Regions from separate parts of the Homo sapiens genome. Here region 2 is linked to region 1. Evidence: fine-mapped QTL for protein levels in blood plasma. A gene starts in region 1. The other region holds a variant in brackets. All regions are shown on one strand. Distances are from middle to middle. Region 1 holds the start of CCL7 (C-C motif chemokine ligand 7). Region 2 holds the start of CCL8 (C-C motif chemokine ligand 8).

Region 1 (5,384 bases):
TAATTTTGCCATATTTTCTACAACCAGCTTATATTGTTTTTAAATTATTTAAAAGTTTTTACAACATTCTGCAACAATTCAGCAGCCTTTTATTTTTACCATTCCCAGGTCTTGTAGGTGACAGGTACAGGTCTTTCCATCATAAATATAAGCAGGCATTTTCTCTGGGATCTTAGGCAGGGACATCTTGGGGTACTTCACTTAAGGATTTTCTGAAGGAAAAAGGTTTAACCAACTGGAACCCATGAGTACTTCCTTGAGCTCCTGACCTGTCTGGGCAGGACCCCCGTGTTCTACTCCAACTTCATCGATCATTCAGCAGGTTATCCATGATAGTTGTCTTCCAAAATAAAAGAAAAAAGAAAAAGAAAGAAAAGTCAAAGGAAAGGATTCTGCTTTTTAGAAGCATCAGGTGGATGGAACGTACACCCTGGGTTAGAAAATATGCTGTTCTAATGTGTTACATTAGAGTGAGCTGGGAAGACTCCATAAATAAGGAGATAGAAAGTAGGCCAACTCTTCACCAATTTCTGGAGCTGGGAGTAAAAACAATTTGAAAAAGAGATAATCGAGAGAATGAGTAGCCTGAGCAAAGTCATAGGGGTAAGATAAAACGACATAAAGCTAAAACCAGAATCAAAGCCTTGCATTGCTCCCAAATTAATATTCAAAGTTGTATAATGCTCAATTCCCCCATTGAATAATTTTCCTTTTTTGCATTCCATGTCCATGATCCATGGCCCAGTTATAGGCATGAGGACCCCACCCATGGTCTCTCATCAAACCCCTTTTCACTGATATGGAAGGCGATTAGTTGGTGATTTTGTAATGTGTATGTGAGATGAGGAGCTAGTTGTATGTGAGATGAGGAGCTAGATTAGTGGTTTCCAAAATTTATTCTTTGTATTTCTGAGATATGTGTGTGGGAAGAATGACAAGAAGTCTCTTGTCTCTGATTCAAACTGAAGGTCTCTGATTTTGTCGATAAATTTGCCTTCCCTATATTCTTTTACTTGGAAAAATATTTTCACAGCTCATTAGATGTTTTAGAAACACAGTATTTTAAGATCTTGATATGCTGTGCAGTTCCGATAGCCTATAAAACAAATAGTGGTTTTAAAACATATCCTCAAATTATTTTACACTCTTCCCATTAAGAGGTATGACTATGTTCCCTAACCTTGCACCTGGGATCCTTAAGCCATCATGCAAAATATCTAGCCATGTGGAGGGACCACTGGAAAGATCACACACACACACACACACACACACACACACACACACATACAGAGAGAGAGAGAGACACCTGAGAAATTCCATCTGGTCCAACTGCTGGCTGTTGAAGTCCTCCCAGCCCAGACCCCAGACACTGAATGAAGGCCTTGTGATATAGTCAAGAGCAAAAAAACCCAGAAGATTGTTATTGTTTTAAGTCACTGTTTTCAGATAGATTGCTATGCAGCAATAGATTATTGAAATAGACACTACAATTTTAGGTACTATTATTCTAAGAATATTGAATTTTATTTTTCTGCTAATGTTCTATTATTTTACTTTTCTCTGGGTTTTAGAAAGCCACCAGGATTTAAGACAGTGAAGAATCTTTGAGTCCTTTGTAGAGTTGAACCAAAGTTTGAATGTCTCTTTGTGGACTCGTGTCCTAGGGATACCACTCCAAAGGGAAAAGGGGAATATCCCTTACATATCTTTGACTTTGGTATCCCTGATTCCTTCCTTTTTCTATAGAATGTGTCTCATTTCAGAGAAACTGGTCTCTTGATAATAGCCATAGATTACATACTGTGGTCTTCCTCTACATAGACCCTACCTCACCTACCACTCCTGGTCTTAGCTGAAAAACAGGCTAGCCTCGACTCATACTGTCATTTCCTATCCTCCCACTGAAGTGCACTGGCTCAGCAGATTTATTACTCCATAGATTTATTACTCCATTCTATGATTCATCCTCTCTGCTTCCTATAAAAGGCAGAGACAGAGCTTCCAGAGGAGCAGAGGGGCTGAGACCAAACCAGAAACCTCCAATTCTCATGTGGAAGCCCATGCCCTCACCCTCCAACATGAAAGCCTCTGCAGCACTTCTGTGTCTGCTGCTCACAGCAGCTGCTTTCAGCCCCCAGGGGCTTGCTCAGCCAGGTAAGGTCCCTCTCTCCTTCTCCTTGAAGCACATTGCCCCCTCTCTGGGTTATCCTGGACCAATCAAGAAGACCTGATACCCACAGTCTCACTTTAACAGCTACTTTTCCAAGATAAGGTAACTTAGAAAAAGGATAAGGGGTGAGCCCAACCACACAGCTGCTGTTGGGTAGAGCCTGAACTAGAATTCCAGCTGTGAACCCCAAATCCAGCTCCTTCTAGGATTCCAGCTCTGGGAACACCCTCAGTGCAGTTACCACTCCAGCTGCTTCCAGCAGAATTTGGGATCAGGGTGATCAAAGACAGGAGGCTTCTGGGGATGGGTGTGCGGGCTGTTTCCAGATACCGGGAGACCCAGAATCTGGTCTGTGGAAGCCCAGCTTCCAGAAACAGCAGCTCTGCAGAGGTGGTACGTATCAGGGAAACTCATGACCAAGCATTGAATGCTCAGAGCCTAAAAGGGGATCCATAGTTGGGGTACCCTTGCTCTAAGGAATTGGATTATTATATTAGCCCCTCCTAGCAATGCCCAGAGTAGCCATCAATTCCTCTTCCGTCTTTCAACTGGTGATGGTGCATCCCTATTTCACAGTCCATAAAAGTGAAAGGGAGTTTATGAAATGCCTCAAAGGGCAGAGACATTGGGTTTGGGATGGGCAGCTTTTCCCTCCACCTCTTCCTTTCTTTCTGATTCCTTCTTCTTACCATTCCCTGTTTTACAAACAGAAAGACCCAGGACACACCCTCAATGGACTTTTCTTCTTGTTGTTTCATTGCAGTTGGGATTAATACTTCAACTACCTGCTGCTACAGATTTATCAATAAGAAAATCCCTAAGCAGAGGCTGGAGAGCTACAGAAGGACCACCAGTAGCCACTGTCCCCGGGAAGCTGTAATGTATGTGGACGATGACCACCCACCCCTCACACCTCAGTCCTAGGTTCTTCCCTGGGCAGGGAATAGGACTAGTATCAGAATGAGTTGGAGTCAAATACTGTGATGCATACAGCATCTCTAACCTTATCCCAGACATTTGCCAGTGAGAAACAATACAAGTAAAGAAAGTGGCTTCTCACTCTCAGCTCCCTTTCCAGCTATCATTTTACATCTCAGTTCGTTCCTTCATCCTGGAACCAAGAGAGATTCACTTGGGCTACCAAAAAGAGCTGCTTCTCTGAGTCCCCTTCCTTTGTTTTATCTTCTTCCTTCATCCCTGAGGCATCCCCATCAGCTAGGCTGATGGGCTAGACAGATTTCCCATAGACTTGGTCACACTCCCAGGCTGAACCCTCAAGGTGTTCCATCTGACTGTCTCCTTTCTGCTCCACAGCTTCAAGACCAAACTGGACAAGGAGATCTGTGCTGACCCCACACAGAAGTGGGTCCAGGACTTTATGAAGCACCTGGACAAGAAAACCCAAACTCCAAAGCTTTGAACATTCATGACTGAACTGAAAACAAGCCATGACTTGAGAAACAAATAATTTGTATACCCTGTCCTTTCTCAGAGTGGTTCTGAGATTATTTTAATCTAATTCTAAGGAATATGAGCTTTATGTAATAATGTGAATCATGGTTTTTCTTAGTAGATTTTAAAAGTTATTAATATTTTAATTTAATCTTCCATGGATTTTGGTGGGTTTTGAACATAAAGCCTTGGATGTATATGTCATCTCAGTGCTGTAAAAACTGTGGGATGCTCCTCCCTTCTCTACCTCATGGGGGTATTGTATAAGTCCTTGCAAGAATCAGTGCAAAGATTTGCTTTAATTGTTAAGATATGATGTCCCTATGGAAGCATATTGTTATTATATAATTACATATTTGCATATGTATGACTCCCAAATTTTCACATAAAATAGATTTTTGTATAACAGCTGCCATTCATGGTTTTTTAAAAGGATAAAGTAATAAAGCTGGTGGGGGTAACAGGGTGACAAGGTGAAGGGCGTGGTTGCAGAGGTTGGGCTCACATTGTGGAGAAATGAGCGCGTAATGGACTCTGGGCTTTCCCCCAGGCCAGGCTCACCTGCATGTTAGGGAGAGGCAGCCACAGGCTGGGGCCAGATGAACCCACCCCCCAGCTCCAGATCTGACATCTGCTTCAGCCACTTGTTCAAATACCTTTCTTTTTTCCCAAACTCATTCTTTTTCTCACCATCCCACGCTCTACCCAAAAGCCTGTCCCCTCTTCTATTCTATCAGCCTTGTGACTGGCTGGTTTTCCCCCTTCTAATCAATCCTCTAGTCTAGTAAATACAAATGTCACTTTCATTAAAAAATCAAGTAGGAGACCAACAGATGATTTGGCAAGTGCCTGCCATCATTGATTTCTGCCACCATTGGTGTTCAGACCAAGTCCAACATCCCTTTCTACCCCTTCTTCAGCCCACCAGTTCTCACCCCCAAACACCAAAGTCAACCTTAAACAATGAGATTCAGAAAATGTGAATAAGTATTCAGTTCATTCAAGGACAAAGCTTGAGGGTGGCCACTTGGAAAAGCATCAACTCCAAACAACCGGAAAAGTTTCAGTTACATAAGTAAAGACAGAAGTTCCAGCCAGATTACAACATTTTTCATACTAGACAAGGTGCATACACCACAGTGATTTGATTGGTTATAGGTTGCTATGTTCTAAGGAAGATTATTTGCTATTCCTTAAGGAGAGGTAATGATCTGAGGGGTCTTACCTCTGCCATGGCTCAGTCTTCTTAATTGTTTACAGGAAACAGCAAAAATGCAGAAGTTGTAGGTGCATGCCACACAACTCAGATTGCATAGCCACATTCCTCTCAAGGCTCAGAATAATTAAAGTCCTAATAGCTTTAAGTTTAAATTATTTGAAGTTTGACTTATTTAATTTAATTTCACACCAATAAGGAGGGTAATCTTAAATTCCAGGAGAGAACAACCAGCAGGCAGACCAGGAGTAGAGGTGAATGAATAGATACTGTGAGACACAGTATTTGATACATGCAAATATTAAGCAGAGTGTTTGATGGTAGGACAGGAAAGGAGAGAAGGGCTACATGTGCTCAAGGTCAAACAGAATCTGCTGAAACTTCATTTTCAAAAAATTATAAAATCATGTGTTTTCATGCAGGCCTTGTACTCTTGGGCACAGAGAATTAGAAAGAACAGGAACAGAGAGGCTGGTATATAACTGGGCATTGAGTTCAATGGGATTCAAAGATTAGGCTAGTTACACCAGCAATGTGCCTAGTAAA
Region 2 (5,384 bases), 50 kb after region 1:
TGGATGTGATAGACTGATTTTAATGTTTATATGGAAAGGTTAAAGATCTAGAATAGCTAACACAGTACTGAAAAAGAATAGTCAGAGGACTAACATTACCCAACTTCAAGATTTACTATTAGGAAACAGTAATCAAGACGGTGTGGTATTGGTGAAAGAATAGACAAATGGATCAATGGAACAGAATAGAGAGCCCTCAACAGATGAATGGATACATAAAATGTACTATATACATACAAGGGAATATTACTCAGCCTTAAGGATATGTAGCATATCATATGCTGCCACATAGATGAACCCTGAGATCCTTACGCTAAATGACATAAGCCAGTCACAAAAGAAAAATACTATATGATTTCACTCACATGAGGTAGTTAGAGCAGTCAAAATCAGAAACAGTAAGTAGAAATGGTGGTTGCCAGGGGCTTGGGGGAGGGGAAACTGGAGATCAATAGGTATAGAATTTCTGTTTACAGATGAAAAGAGTTATTGAGACTGTTGCACAACAGTGTGAATGTTCTTAATGCCACTAAACTATGCACTTAAAAATGGTTAAGATGGTATGTGCATTTTTACCACAATAAAAATAATAAATGAATAAAGAACAAAGGAAGTAATTAGCTATCAAACCACAACAAGGCACGGAGAAACCTTAAATGCATATTGCTTAGTGAAAGAAGCCAGTCTGAAAAGGCTGCCTACTATATGATTCCAACTATGCATATGATACTTGGGAAAAGACAAGCTCACAGAGATAGTAAAAAGATCAGTGGTAGCCAGAGATTTGTGGAGAGGAAAAAGGATGAATAGAAGAATACAGTGAATTCTTAGAGCAGGAAAACTTCTATATGATATTGTAATGATGGATAGATCAGGCCTGCAGGGGGAGTAGATGAGGTCAGTCTTTTGCAAACCTGGTTCCTTCTTGCCACGCCCCGCCCACAGCCCCACTGTGTGTGAACCAAGAGAGTTGGAAGGCCTTCTGCAGACGGACCCATTCCACCTGAATCTCCATGACATATTGGACTTCTCCATATAATTTCATTTGGAAAGAAACTTGAGCATCTAAATAAAATGTTTGGAAACCACCATGCTACAAGACCAGCATGTGCTGTCTAGTTCTTACCCTCTGCAACAGTAAGATTCTGGGGCATTAAGACTTAGTTCCAGGATTCTGTCATTCTGCCAACGTTCTGTGGCTGGGGTTCTAAAGGAGCTTGCCTGGCTTAGAACTGCAAGTGACTCTAGTGTGATGGAGAGCACCAGCAAAGCCTTAGGGCCCATCCCTGGCCTCCTGTTACCCACAGAGGGGTAGGCCCTTGGCTCTCTTCCACTATGACGTCAGCTTCCATTCTTCCTTTCTTATAGACAATTTTCCATTTCAAGGAAATCAGAGCCCTTAATAGTTCAGTGAGGTCACTTTGCTGAGCACAATCCCATACCCTTCAGCCTCTGCTCCACAGAGCCTAAGCAAAAGATAGAAACTCACAACTTCCTTGTTTTGTTATCTGGAAATTATCCCAGGATCTGGTGCTTACTCAGCATATTCAAGGAAGGTCTTACTTCATTCTTCCTTGATTGTGACCATGCCCAGGCTCTCTGCTCCCTATAAAAGGCAGGCAGAGCCACCGAGGAGCAGAGAGGTTGAGAACAACCCAGAAACCTTCACCTCTCATGCTGAAGCTCACACCCTTGCCCTCCAAGATGAAGGTTTCTGCAGCGCTTCTGTGCCTGCTGCTCATGGCAGCCACTTTCAGCCCTCAGGGACTTGCTCAGCCAGGTAAGACCTCTCCCTTTTTAAGGGGAGACCAAAAGAGGAATTAAGAAGAGCCATTATGTCACAGCTCATTAGGAACAAAACCAGAACTAAAGGCTCAGGTCACTGAGGCTGGTTCCCTTGATCTTTCCTGACCCCAGTTTTGGGAGGAGACAGTGGAGCCGCTACAGCAACAACCCTCCCATTGTTTGGGGAAATAATCCAGAACGAAGAACTGTTTCTCACTGTGGGTGTAAAGGACATTTCAGGCCGTAGTGGAGAGGGAGAAACTATTGCCTGAAGCTTCAAATTTTGGTTATGGTTCAGTGTACCTTCCAGAACAGTGGCTGTGTAAAGAGGATGAGGACCCAGAGGAATCTCAGCGTATGGCATAGGCTAACTCTAAAGCCCATGAGGATGAAAGACTGGGAAGCAAGGTATTGGAACTTATGTTCCCAGTGTCAGAAGTTTTGGGTTAGTAGACAAGGACTAGCTTGTTACTCAAAATGTTTCCAAACCCAGTCAACAATGACGGGCCGCAGAGTTCAATAGAGGAAAGAGACTCACAGGCAACATTTTATCTCTGGGATCTGGACTAAGACACTGAACTTGGGATGGTGACTTCTTGGTCTTCTCCTTCCTTCTCTTCTTTTCCTTACAAATGCACACTTACGGTGGGTCCTAAATGTCTCATTCTTTGCAAAATTTCTTTCAGATTCAGTTTCCATTCCAATCACCTGCTGCTTTAACGTGATCAATAGGAAAATTCCTATCCAGAGGCTGG[A/T]GAGCTACACAAGAATCACCAACATCCAATGTCCCAAGGAAGCTGTGATGTGAGTGGACAGTGCCTGGCACCCCCATTCAAAAGTTCTGATGGACAACATAGAGAAGTCAAGATTCATGTCCATATGAGTCGGATGCATATAACTTCTATCCAAAGGGCCCCTCTACCCCATAGAGAAACTCAGTCCATGAGAAGGAGTCCATAACTGCTCTAGGATTCCCTTCTAGGGGCTTGGTGAAACTAACCCAATATCTGTAGCCAGGACCCTGGAGGGTTTCACCTGGACAGCAAGAGCAGAGCTTCCTTCTGGAGCTTCTTCCTCCCACTCTTCCCCTCCCTCCTCTCCCGGGTCCGGGTCCTTCACCTAAGGACCAAGGGCTGATCAGTTCTAGGGACCAATGGCCCACAGTCCTGTGCAGGATCTTCAAAGTCTTCCATCTAATTGTGCCCTCTCTCCCCCACAGCTTCAAGACCAAACGGGGCAAGGAGGTCTGTGCTGACCCCAAGGAGAGATGGGTCAGGGATTCCATGAAGCATCTGGACCAAATATTTCAAAATCTGAAGCCATGAGCCTTCATACATGGACTGAGAGTCAGAGCTTGAAGAAAAGCTTATTTATTTTCCCCAACCTCCCCCAGGTGCAGTGTGACATTATTTTATTATAACATCCACAAAGAGATTATTTTTAAATAATTTAAAGCATAATATTTCTTAAAAAGTATTTAATTATATTTAAGTTGTTGATGTTTTAACTCTATCTGTCATACATCCTAGTGAATGTAAAATGCAAAATCCTGGTGATGTGTTTTTTGTTTTTGTTTTCCTGTGAGCTCAACTAAGTTCACGGCAAAATGTCATTGTTCTCCCTCCTACCTGTCTGTAGTGTTGTGGGGTCCTCCCATGGATCATCAAGGTGAAACACTTTGGTATTCTTTGGCAATCAGTGCTCCTGTAAGTCAAATGTGTGCTTTGTACTGCTGTTGTTGAAATTGATGTTACTGTATATAACTATGGAATTTTGAAAAAAAATTTCAAAAAGAAAAAAATATATATAATTTAAAACTACTTAGTCTTATTCTTCTTGGGGTAACATTTAGCTGGGAGTGAGTTTTGGGCATCATGGGTGACAGTTTGGGCATGGACGGGCCATTTTTCAAGAATGTCTTCTGGCTACGCTGGACTCAACCAAGGTTCTCAGAGAACTTGGTGGGACCAGGCCAGGATGTTCCAGCTCTCTGACTCTAGTCCCTAACTTCAGCAGCCCTGATTCGCTAGCCTCTCTTGTTTCTCTTGTTTATATATTATCCAGCCTAAGGTATTTTGTTATAGCTGCCCAAAAAGACTAAGATAATCTCCATCACTCTACCCCCAACCCCAATCCCAAGAACTTGCAAGCATCCATTTAAAGGCGTGGAACCTCTTCTTTTTGACAGCCTTTTAAGGTCAAGATTCCCCTGTACTTAGTGAGCTTAGCTGAATCTTCTTACAAACATGTGACCCGCCATATTGAGCCATACATACCAGAGCTTATTATTTTTCCAGCTTATTGGGAAAACACGTCTAAGGCAAACAAATTTATTGTACTGTTGAACCAACTCTGCAGGGCCTACTGTTAATGTTCATGTAAAGGTGCCACAATTCCAGTATATTTGGAAGTATAGAGAGGAAAGAGATTTGGGTTCTGCTCCTAAGAGTAACCTTAACTCTCTTGGTCACTTAGGGTGACATAATTTTTCCCTTCAGCATTAAGATGCCCCATCCAAAAATCAGGATCATACTGTGTCACAGGCAGGAAGTGAGAGGATCTAGCAGATGACTACACAAGTCCCTCCAGCTCTAGAGCCATGTCTCTTAGAAACAAGGTCATGTTTGTTGTCTGGGGTAGAGTGGGGACATAAAGTTCCTGGGATTAAAGCCATAAAGGCAGCCAGGGCCTAGCTTATTGGAAAAACACATCTAAGTCAGATACCCCTTATTTGGAGACAAGCTTTCCATTAAAGTTCAAAGTAGTACACCCACAGTTCCAAGAGCAATAAAGCAGCTAAGTGTCAGATGGACTAGAGGGGCACCTCCCAGGCAGGGTCCACAAAAAAGCTCCATCAAACTCTAAGCTCTTTCTTCAATAGCTTCAAGGTCAATTGGGCACAGATATGTGGGTCCTGGGCTTCATGAAATCCTGGACCACAAATCCCAAATTCTAAAGGCAAGAACACTCACACAAAACTGACACCAGGCCACAGCAAAAAGACACAAATTTGTTCTTCTCAAATTTTACCCAGCTTCACTTTGGGATTATGTCATTATATTTCAAATGACAATGAGCATAATACACCTTAAGTAACATGTCATCTTATTTAAGTGGTTGATGTTTTATGTGCCCTGACTTGAATATATGTGTTTTAAAAATCCACATCCTTCCATAAACTGGTTCAGATCTGTAAGCCCTGCTTTGCTGTCTTGTAAACTGGGGGAAAGACCTGGAAAGGTCACTCAAAGCTGACATACAACCTCAGGCTCACCTCAGTTTCACCCTCAGCTAAGGCTGACCATTTGTGGCAGTCCATGACTCACTTGATTCACTCAATATCTGCTTTCTGCCTCTTCTCACTTCTCACTTGCTGCCCCCAGGCTTCTCCTGGGTGTCATCTTGGGTCAGGAGTTGACTCCACTGCACACTTGTCCAAGTTTCAGAAGTGTGGAAGAGTGAACATTTTGGGTGGTAACCGTCCACAGTGAAGGGTGAAGGCAGATGTTCAAATGCTTCTGCCATCCCTTTTACCAGTTCTGCTCTGATCTTGGTTATTTCTTTTCTTCTGCTGGGGTTGGATTTGGTTTGTTCTTGTT

What was found. PIP is the chance, under the fine-mapping model, that this variant and not a neighbour inherited with it causes the effect. Protein levels are from the aptamer-based SomaScan assay of Sun 2018.
Region 2: its variant is fine-mapped to the plasma level of the CCL7 protein (Sun 2018, PIP 0.95).

The regions. Positions count from the first base shown.
Region 1 is chr17:34,268,213-34,273,596 of GRCh38, forward strand. It overlaps CCL7 (C-C motif chemokine ligand 7), which reads left to right and starts at 2,009. Exons shown (of 3, transcript NM_006273.4): 1 at 2,009-2,154; 2 at 2,934-3,051; 3 at 3,485-4,030. The coding sequence starts at 2,079. The coding sequence ends at 3,590.
Region 2 is chr17:34,317,798-34,323,181 of GRCh38, forward strand. It overlaps CCL8 (C-C motif chemokine ligand 8), which reads left to right and starts at 1,638. Exons shown (of 3, transcript NM_005623.3): 1 at 1,638-1,780; 2 at 2,472-2,589; 3 at 3,005-3,605. The coding sequence starts at 1,705. The coding sequence ends at 3,110. The variant A/T (reference allele first, on the strand shown) is at 2,541.